2 linked regions of the Homo sapiens genome follow. The protein of the gene in region 2 purifies or fractionates together with the protein of the main gene of each other region. This does not show direct contact. Each region holds a gene or a part of one and is shown on either strand. Other genes may lie near its edges.

Region 1 (3,500 bases), on a different chromosome or scaffold from region 2:
GTCTGAGACGCACTTTTCAAGAATAATTTGATTCTGTCCATCCACAGGCGGCCCATTTCTCCGCGGTGCCGTTCGCAACAGGCTTTCGCCTCTGCGAGTAAATCACGAGAGGACACATAGAAGGTGAGCCACACTAATTATGAAAATCCACAGTGTGAAAGGACAGCGCTGCCCTGACCATATGCCAAAGAGTTCAAAGCCGGCCTCCAGAACACGGTCCAGAAGAGCTGGAGGGAGCGTCAACATCCGGGGGACTCTGCTAATACTCGGGCCCAGCTCCGCAAGCTGCGGGTCCATCACAAAGGACAGCCGCACTAGGCTAATATCGCAGACCTGGGAACACTGCCACTGCCATTCAGGGGCGTATATGGACAAGACAAAACTGGCTTGGCTCTTCGGGCCAGGGGTGCCTTTTCCAAGGATACTCAGAGCATTTTGTGGGAACCTTTCACTCAAAGTGAAAAATAATTCCTAAAACGTGCATAAAACCCGCCTTGAACAATGGCTGCTCGGTTCCTCTCACTCCCCCAAATCATGTCTCATTTTCCTACAACTGATATCCTCCGTCTAGCCCTTTAACTTTATCTCCGTGTTGGCTTTCTGACAGACCAAGAGGCTCAGATTGACAGTGGTGGTGCCATTTGCTGGGGGCTGTAAACTAGTTCAAAAAGCTTCCAGTCTGTGCCAGGATGCCACCTTATTGCCAAGGCAGGATTTGCACTTTACAGAGAAACTGGCATCTTAAGTAAGTATCTGGGTCCATACAGTGATTGCTGGTCTACAGTATTCGTTTTTTTGTTGTTTTTTTGTCTTTTTTTTTTTTTGAGACGGAGTCTCGCTCTGTTGCCCAGGCTGGACTGCAGTGGCGATCTCGGCTCACTGCAAGCTCCGCCTCCTGGGTTCACGCCATTCTCCTGCCTCAGCCTCCTGAGTAGCTGGGACTACAGGCGCCCACCACCACGCCCGGCTAATTTTTTGTATTTTTAGTAGAGACGTGGTTTCACCGTGTTAGCCAGGATGGTCTCGATCTCCTGACCTTGTGACACAGTATTCTTTAATCACAGACTAAATAGTAAGTACTATGGAAGTTTTGAGAACAGAAATGTACTTTCACATTTTTCTAATAAAACCCAGATGAGCTGACAGCATCAGGCCATTTTAGGGGAGCACTATACTCAAAGTGCAGACGCTCCTGGAGGTGAAGCAGTGATGCCATGGCTTTCTAAGTTATTCTAGTCTAAGAAGATTCCCAACAGACAGAAAGAGGGAGGAACAGGATTGGTTCCAGGTCAGGCCCTCAATTCATCACTCAGTGTTGGCTTTTCTGCTCACTCTCCTACCAGTGCCAAAATCAAGTTTGTTTAAATTAAATCCTAACTCAGCATAGACAGATTTGAGCACTTCCTTCTTAACACCAAATCATCTCCCACTCTACAAATCTAGAGGTTCCTGTACCAATGAACTCAGAAATAAGCTCGACATAAAGAATTCTTAAGGCTGGCTGAGCTGCACACATGACATCCTGGAACATGGCTACCCAATTAACACCAACTTAAATCTATCTTCACGCAAGAGTTACTTTAAATTTCAGGTGAGACAGTCTTGGGATGAAGAAAGTGTAGGAATGGAAACCTTCCTTCCCAGATGGACTGGGATAACACCACTGAACTCATTCTCACTTATATATTAGGTCAAACTGATCTTTGATTCCCAAGGGTGAGATTCCACCGTGTTAGTCTGAAGAAGGCCAAGGAACCACAGTGATGAGCAGCTCTGGCCCTGAAGTCAGCCCTGAGGTTTGAATCGTAACTTCTTACCTCTGAGAACTGGGGCAAGTCAGTTCACTGCTCTAAGCAGCCTGAAGTGGCTTCTTGGTAAATGGGGAAAATGCTACTACCTATTTTGTAAGGCTGTAGTTAGACTTATGGAGGTAAGGCCCGCAGGAAGCTCTGAGTGAATGGGAGTTACCAACACCATTAGTACGTGCTTACATTAGACCCAGAGATTCTAAGAATAGAAAATAAGATGACCAGACTAAAAAGCTCACCAGTTTCGGAACTTCAAATTCCGCAGCTATCTGCCAGTACCCCTCCTCATTGGGGGATAACATCACGACATCAAAAGCAGAAGCTGTGGCCACGGTTGCATCGTCCTGGCTGAGGGCTAGTGCCTGTATTCTTGCATCGTGCTCAAAACGATGAACAGGGTACTTTCCGGTCCTTAAATCCCAAATATTAAGAAACCCTATGCAGCAAGAAACAATGCAGGTAACAATTTTAAATTTACTTAATATGTTCAATTATTTTAAAAACATGCAACACAAAGGAAAATTTTTTAACGGAGATACCTTGGAAATGAGACCCAAGTCTAAACACGAAATCACTTACGTTTCATATATACCTGATGCACATGGCCTGAAGGTAATTTTATACAATATTTTATTTTACTTTTTTATTTTTTAGAAACAGTGCCTCACTCTTCGCCCAGGCTGGAGTGCAGTGGTGCTATCATAGCTCACTGCATTTTTGAACTGATGGGCCTAAGTGATCTTCCTGCTTCAGCCTCCCAAATAGACAGGACTACAGGCGTGTGCCACCATACCCAGCTAATTTTTAATTTAGCTGAGACACAGTCTCACTATGTTGCCCAGGCTGCTTTTTTGAACTACTGGGGTCAAGCAATCTTCCTGCCTCTGCCTCCCAAAGTGTTGGAATTACACGTGTGAGCCAACGTACCTGGTCTATACAATATTTTAAATAATTCTGTGCATGAAGCAAAGTTTTGGCTGTGTTTTGGCTACAAACCCATCACATGAAGTTAGATGTGAAATTTCCTACATGTAGCATCATGTCAGTGCTTAAACAGTTTCAAAGCATTTTGGAATTTTGGATTAGGGATGCTCAGCCTGAATTTCACATCCTTCCTCAGCGCCATCCTCCTAAAGCCTCTGTTAGCAGCAGTGCTTTATTTTGCACAGCTCTAAAACCTGTGCTTCAATATCCCACACTTGCCAAAAATGCCGATTTTCCACTCTTCTCCCAGCACCTGGAATGCTGCTACCCAGATTAATTCCTCTTTCACACACTGGCCACACACCCTTTCTCCAGGGTGGTTTCCAGACCGGTAGCATCAGTACCACGTGGCGACTTATTAGAAATGCAGACTGTCAGGCACCAGTAACTCTGGGGATGTCCACTGGAGTTTAGGACCAGTGGTCTACAGGAGCTTATGCTTTTCCAGTCAGATAACCTTTTCTGTACTTAGCATTTCATTGATTCTTCTTTCCTCAAAAATAATTTCTTTTTATCATTCCCAAGCTATTTCCTTCCCTTCGAAGATTTACCCAAGAAAATGATTACTCTCTGCATTAGGCTGGTTAATGCCTTGCTCCAATTCCAATTGATTCAATTTTTCAAAATTCACCAAGAAATAAATGTGTGGAGATAACAGTTTGTGACTATTTGAGTTCAAATCCAGCTCCAGCACTTGTTAGCTGACGG
Region 2 (4,824 bases):
AATTTTTGTTTCTGGTGTGTGTGTGTGTCTGTGTGTGTCTGTATATACTGGGTCATAGTCGGTTATGATAAAAAGTGTCAGAAGCCGCCTTAAGCTGCGAGGGGGAAGGGAGCTGCCTCCCCTCCAGCTATTTGTCCGTGGCTGAGACCACACTGCCTGTTGGATGGACACTGGGAACTGCCTCCTCTTTTCCCCCTACCCCCTAACAGCCACAGCCCTGGAAGCTGACAGACTATTTTTCTTAGTGCAAGTGTGGGGTCTAGAGGATTAAGAGGACAAAATAGATGTTTTGACCATGAAGAAAGTTTAAAGGCATGTTCGCTCTTTCCACTCATGGACTTCCCGGAGCCATTTTTTCCCTTGATGCTGCGCCTGACAAGTATCTCAACAAAGGCCCGCCCCTTCCTCAACCTTCACTAATGGAGCCCAGGCCTCCTCCTCAGTTTGCACTTTTGCATGAGCAGCGCCTCCAGGCCATGTACTTCTCGGCCATGCTGGTGTACAGCTGGCATCATCAGACCCGGGTCCAGAGGCTGAGCAACTCTGTTTAAGGAAGACTCTTGAAACCATCTTAAACAGGCTACCCAGAAGCCCCTTGGGCGTTTTCGCACTGATTTCAGGAGTAGTACCGTGTAGGTGTTACGTACAACTGCCTTCATCTGTAGTAGCTGTGTGACCTTGGACAACTTAGCCTCTCTGCTTCAGTTTCCACATCTATAAAATGGAATTGGTAACTGTACCTACTTAATAGAATTATTGTAAGGATTAAACAAGCTAACACATACCAAGTGCTTAGAACAGTCCCTGCACTTAGTAAGCATTTAATCAACATTATTATTATTTAATCATTTCTTAAGCTGCATGATAGTTACTATTTTTCCATATTTATAGATAAGAAAATGAAGCTCTGAGAAATTACGTAATTTGCCCTGTGTCCTGTGCCTAGTAGAGACAAAGCCAGAACTTAAATCCAGATATCCTGACTTCAAGGTCTGTGTTCTTTTTCTCCTAATGATGCCTCACTCCAGCTTTAGCAGCCTGAGGGGCATCAAATTAACTCCTGTGGTGAACTTTTCCTTATCGGTCTCTGCTGGGCCGGCACCCACTGTGAAAAGGGCACTCTTGGATCAAAGGTGTCTGGAGGGATGGTAAGCCCAGGGGAAGTTTCTGTTCATGATTTTGCATAGTCTTTGGGGACAGATATACTTGGGGGAGCTAGAGATGATAGATAGATAGATAGATAGATAGATAGATAGATAGATAGATAGATAGATAGAAGGATGATAGAAAGATATTTCTTTTTTAAAAAAAATTAGAATCAGAAATGAATGTCCTTGCCTGTACTGGCCACCCAAAGGCATTCTTTTGGAGTTCTAGGCTAACTGGACAGCGATGAGCATATAGGGGAGAATCCTTATGCCTTCAATTAAGTTTTCATAACAATGTCTCTTGATAACTGAGTATGGCAGTTTGAGATGGAGATATAATGTAAGTGTTGGTTTCATGTGCTAAGCAGCAGCTAAGTTCTATGTCTCGTTCTTTTCCAGCCTGTGATTTGCTCATTTCTATAAAATAAAGTCTTAATAACTATCCCTGCTTTCTCTTTTCTTGCAACCCACAGAGAGAACTGAAATTCCACATTCAGCACCCAAGGTTGGAGATATACTTTTGATGTATTTGGGATAGTTTTGCTGGATTTTATTACAGTCAATTTTTCAATTTGAAAAAATTCAAATCCACATGGGTTTTATATGATAATCCTATTAAACTATTTCATCAACCTGAGTTCTCTGATTGTGCTGGTTAATAAACTGTAATTCTCAAATATCCCTTTCACAGGTTTGCGCCTGGGCTAGGCGTGGAGACTGATGAGGCATCTTGGTGCCCACTAGCATTCTTGGCACCCTCAGGCCCTCTTAAAGTGTAAGCCATCTTAAGCTGTCCAGGAGGAGCTGCAGGAATAGTTTCTGGGGCACTCGCAAAGGATTAGAAAATGGGCCCCAGTGCCAGGTTACAAACAGGCAGGCCATGTAATGCGGATAAAATAAGAACTGACTTCAGCTCTGCCCTAAAGTCACACCAAGAACTTTCTGAGAAAAAAAATCACATAAATGAATATGCTGCTCAGAAGATCTGCACACAACTACATTCTGTAATGCTGACTGACGCAAAACAAGAGAGAGGAAAGTCATTTAGTGATATTCTCCGTCTGACCCCCAGAGAGACGCAAGGTCAAGTAACTCTGGTCTCTCCAGGATCATGGGGAGATTTGAGGGAGCAAAGTGGGCACACTGAATGAAATCCACAAGTAGTCCCTGGATTTCATTTCAGCCAACAGTTTTAACAATAGTTTCTACATTCTATCTGGGAAACAATGGCTGGGACAAGGGCCCTTGAAAAGTCAAGGGGGCCATAAAGACTTTACATCAGACCCATCGTAGTGTAGCACGTTTGGTCCTCTTCATTTGAAGAGTTAGGACCCACCCCTCATTGTTCACACATCCCAGCTGTGTGACAAGGGCATCTGATTCACGTGAGGCCAAAATAAAGCAGAGTTCAGTATATATTCTCTGCATCCTCGTTCCCATATCCCAACCCCTGGCCAAAGGCATTCCCTCGGCACCTCACTGAGGCAGCGCAGACAGCATGCCCTTTGGTTACTTACCTCAAGCACGATTTCTTTCAGTTGGAACTGTTTTTGCGTGACCTTATCTGAAGACACCGGCTCATGGTAGTAGAGGCAAAGCAAGTCATATTTCTTTAAAACCTGCTTGAAGTTCTTCTCGGAAAGACTTACCACTCGGTCCTTCCCATCATATGTGGGGAAATTAAGCCCCTCTTCTGCCCTGCAAGAGGACAGAAAATAAATCCCCACAATAAACAAGTGAGTTCTCTTCATTTGGGAAAACTTTTGTTTCTCGTTCCCAAATATGCTGTGTGCAGAATAGAGGACAGAAGACTGTTAGAGGCCTTGTTGAGCCAAGGAGAGAGCAGACAGGCTGATTTTCTCTCTTCTTTGCCCTTCCTGGGGCTGAAAAGTGACTCTTCACCTCCTTGGGTCCAGCCAGCTCTGGAATCGTGGGCTCAGGACAAAGAGCAGAGGCACACACACACACACACGCACGCACGCACGCACGCATGAGAGTAGAAAAACAGCCAAGCTAGGGAGGCTGGGAGGCCAAGCCCCAGATACCTTACATAGCTCTGCTCAGCCTCTGTCTCATTAGGAACTCCATTTTTAGGATGCAGTTGTTTCAGGCTAAAAATAAATCATGCAATGAATAAAAAAGTTAGATACGACACTGTAGAGGGATTCGCTGATACAGTCTGTCCGACTGGTGAAGAGGGAAGAGGCAGAAGGAAAAAGACAAGAATGTACACGCATGAAATAAGGAGGCTAGAAAGGTCAAAGAAGAGAAAGAAACTCGAGAGGGAGAGAGATAAGGGACTATGGTGCCAATAAGCAAATGGAGAGTTCAAACATACGGAATGACACTCATACATTACTGAATTGTTAAATCACCCCAGGGTGGTAACTCAGCCTGTCCCCTCACGGTGGTTGTTCATCCTCTGTTCCTCACTGCAACATGGAACAAAATGGAGCCCCGAGGTAGACTTCTTCATGTTCTACTCCTGTCTTTTTCTGCCTTCCCTCCTCTCTTCTTAAAAATCCTCTGCCAGCCACTGGGCGAGGGGTGCAGGGACACCCTGCTGAACCCAGCTGACACCAGAAGAACCTGTCCTCATTAAACTAAAATGAAACAAGGTTCACAGTTCAAATCCCTACTCTGCCTTTTAACAGCTAATGAACTTTGGAGGGTCACTTGCCCTCTCTGATTCTCAGTTCCCCTCTATGTAAAGTGGGGCTGATAATAACCATAAAGTTTCAAACACATAGATGAAAAAGCATGGCACAAAATAGGTGCTCAAAAATAGTAGCTATTATACTTACTTCTCATTGGAGCTGGTGGAACATTGGTTATATAATGGATATTTGTCTGTTTCTAATATGAATGGTTTGTGAACCCTTTCTTGTCCATTTTCTCCTTGAATCCAGTAGGCAATTGGGGCAAAAGGGATCAGGGCTCATCCTACCGCTGAGCTAACAGCAACTTGTCTGAGTTTGCAGCATTTCTAACTGCCGGAGCAAGAATCCAACCCTGCCTCAAAGCTGCTGCTCCTGGCTGTTTTGCCTCTGACTCTGGGTGATTCCCTTGCAGACACCCCTTTTCTTAAGTACCTTCTTGACCATCTCTTCCAGTCCAACCCTAGTCCAGTCATGTCTCTCCACTCTTCAAAGGCATCTAGGGCATTCATGATTCTGACCAAGTTTTTGTTCTCCTTCAGTTATAAATCAGCTTTGGAAAGACAGAGTACTCTGTCATGCACAGCTTCTGCAGGGGCTAGAAGGCAAAGAGAAGATCCGTGGCCTCTCTGAGTAAAGCAAGGCTCCCCTGCAGTCAGACGGCCTTACACTGAGAGTCAGGCTGATAAGGGGTTGTCTTGATGCTACACTCTCATGTGCAGAAAGTTGGGGCCTTGAAGAACCCATCACTAAAACCCTTGACGGTATTCCGTTCTTTCTAATGGTGTAGTCTCTAAGTTTTCAAAAGATGGAGCCAAGAATATCCATTCTAAGGTGCACTTAGCTTTCCAAGTCAGTGGCAAGCATGCAAGATCTCTGCTTTCTTTAGGAAATTTAAGGGGAAAAAGATTTCCGAGTGAAACAATGTGTGTCTTGTCTTTTTGAGGTCAGCCTCCCCAGACTGTTCCCAGTTGTCTCGATCTCACTGGGTTACCTTTATTTAGAATTTGCTCCACTTT

Evidence for each region.
Region 1: the proteins of CASQ2 (region 2) and FBXW8 purify together in Homo sapiens (affinity purification with mass spectrometry; 3 studies listed by BioGRID and IntAct, with this or other methods). This does not show direct contact.

What each region holds. Positions count from the first base shown.
Region 1 is NC_000012.12:116,983,950-116,987,449, reverse strand, and holds part of FBXW8 (F-box/WD repeat-containing protein 8), read right to left. Parts: intron 2,268-3,500; exon of another isoform or gene 2,245-2,267; coding exon 2,048-2,244; intron 1,797-2,047; exon of another isoform or gene 113-1,796; intron 1-112. UniProt on the Homo sapiens protein: Substrate-recognition component of the Cul7-RING(FBXW8) ubiquitin ligase complex, which mediates the ubiquitination and subsequent proteasomal degradation of target proteins.
Region 2 is NC_000001.11:115,765,643-115,770,466, forward strand, and holds the start of CASQ2 (calsequestrin-2 precursor), read right to left. Parts: upstream 3,073-4,824; 5' UTR 2,900-3,072; coding exon 2,666-2,899; intron 1-2,665. UniProt on the Homo sapiens protein: Calsequestrin is a high-capacity, moderate affinity, calcium-binding protein and thus acts as an internal calcium store in muscle. Calcium ions are bound by clusters of acidic residues at the protein surface, especially at the interface between subunits.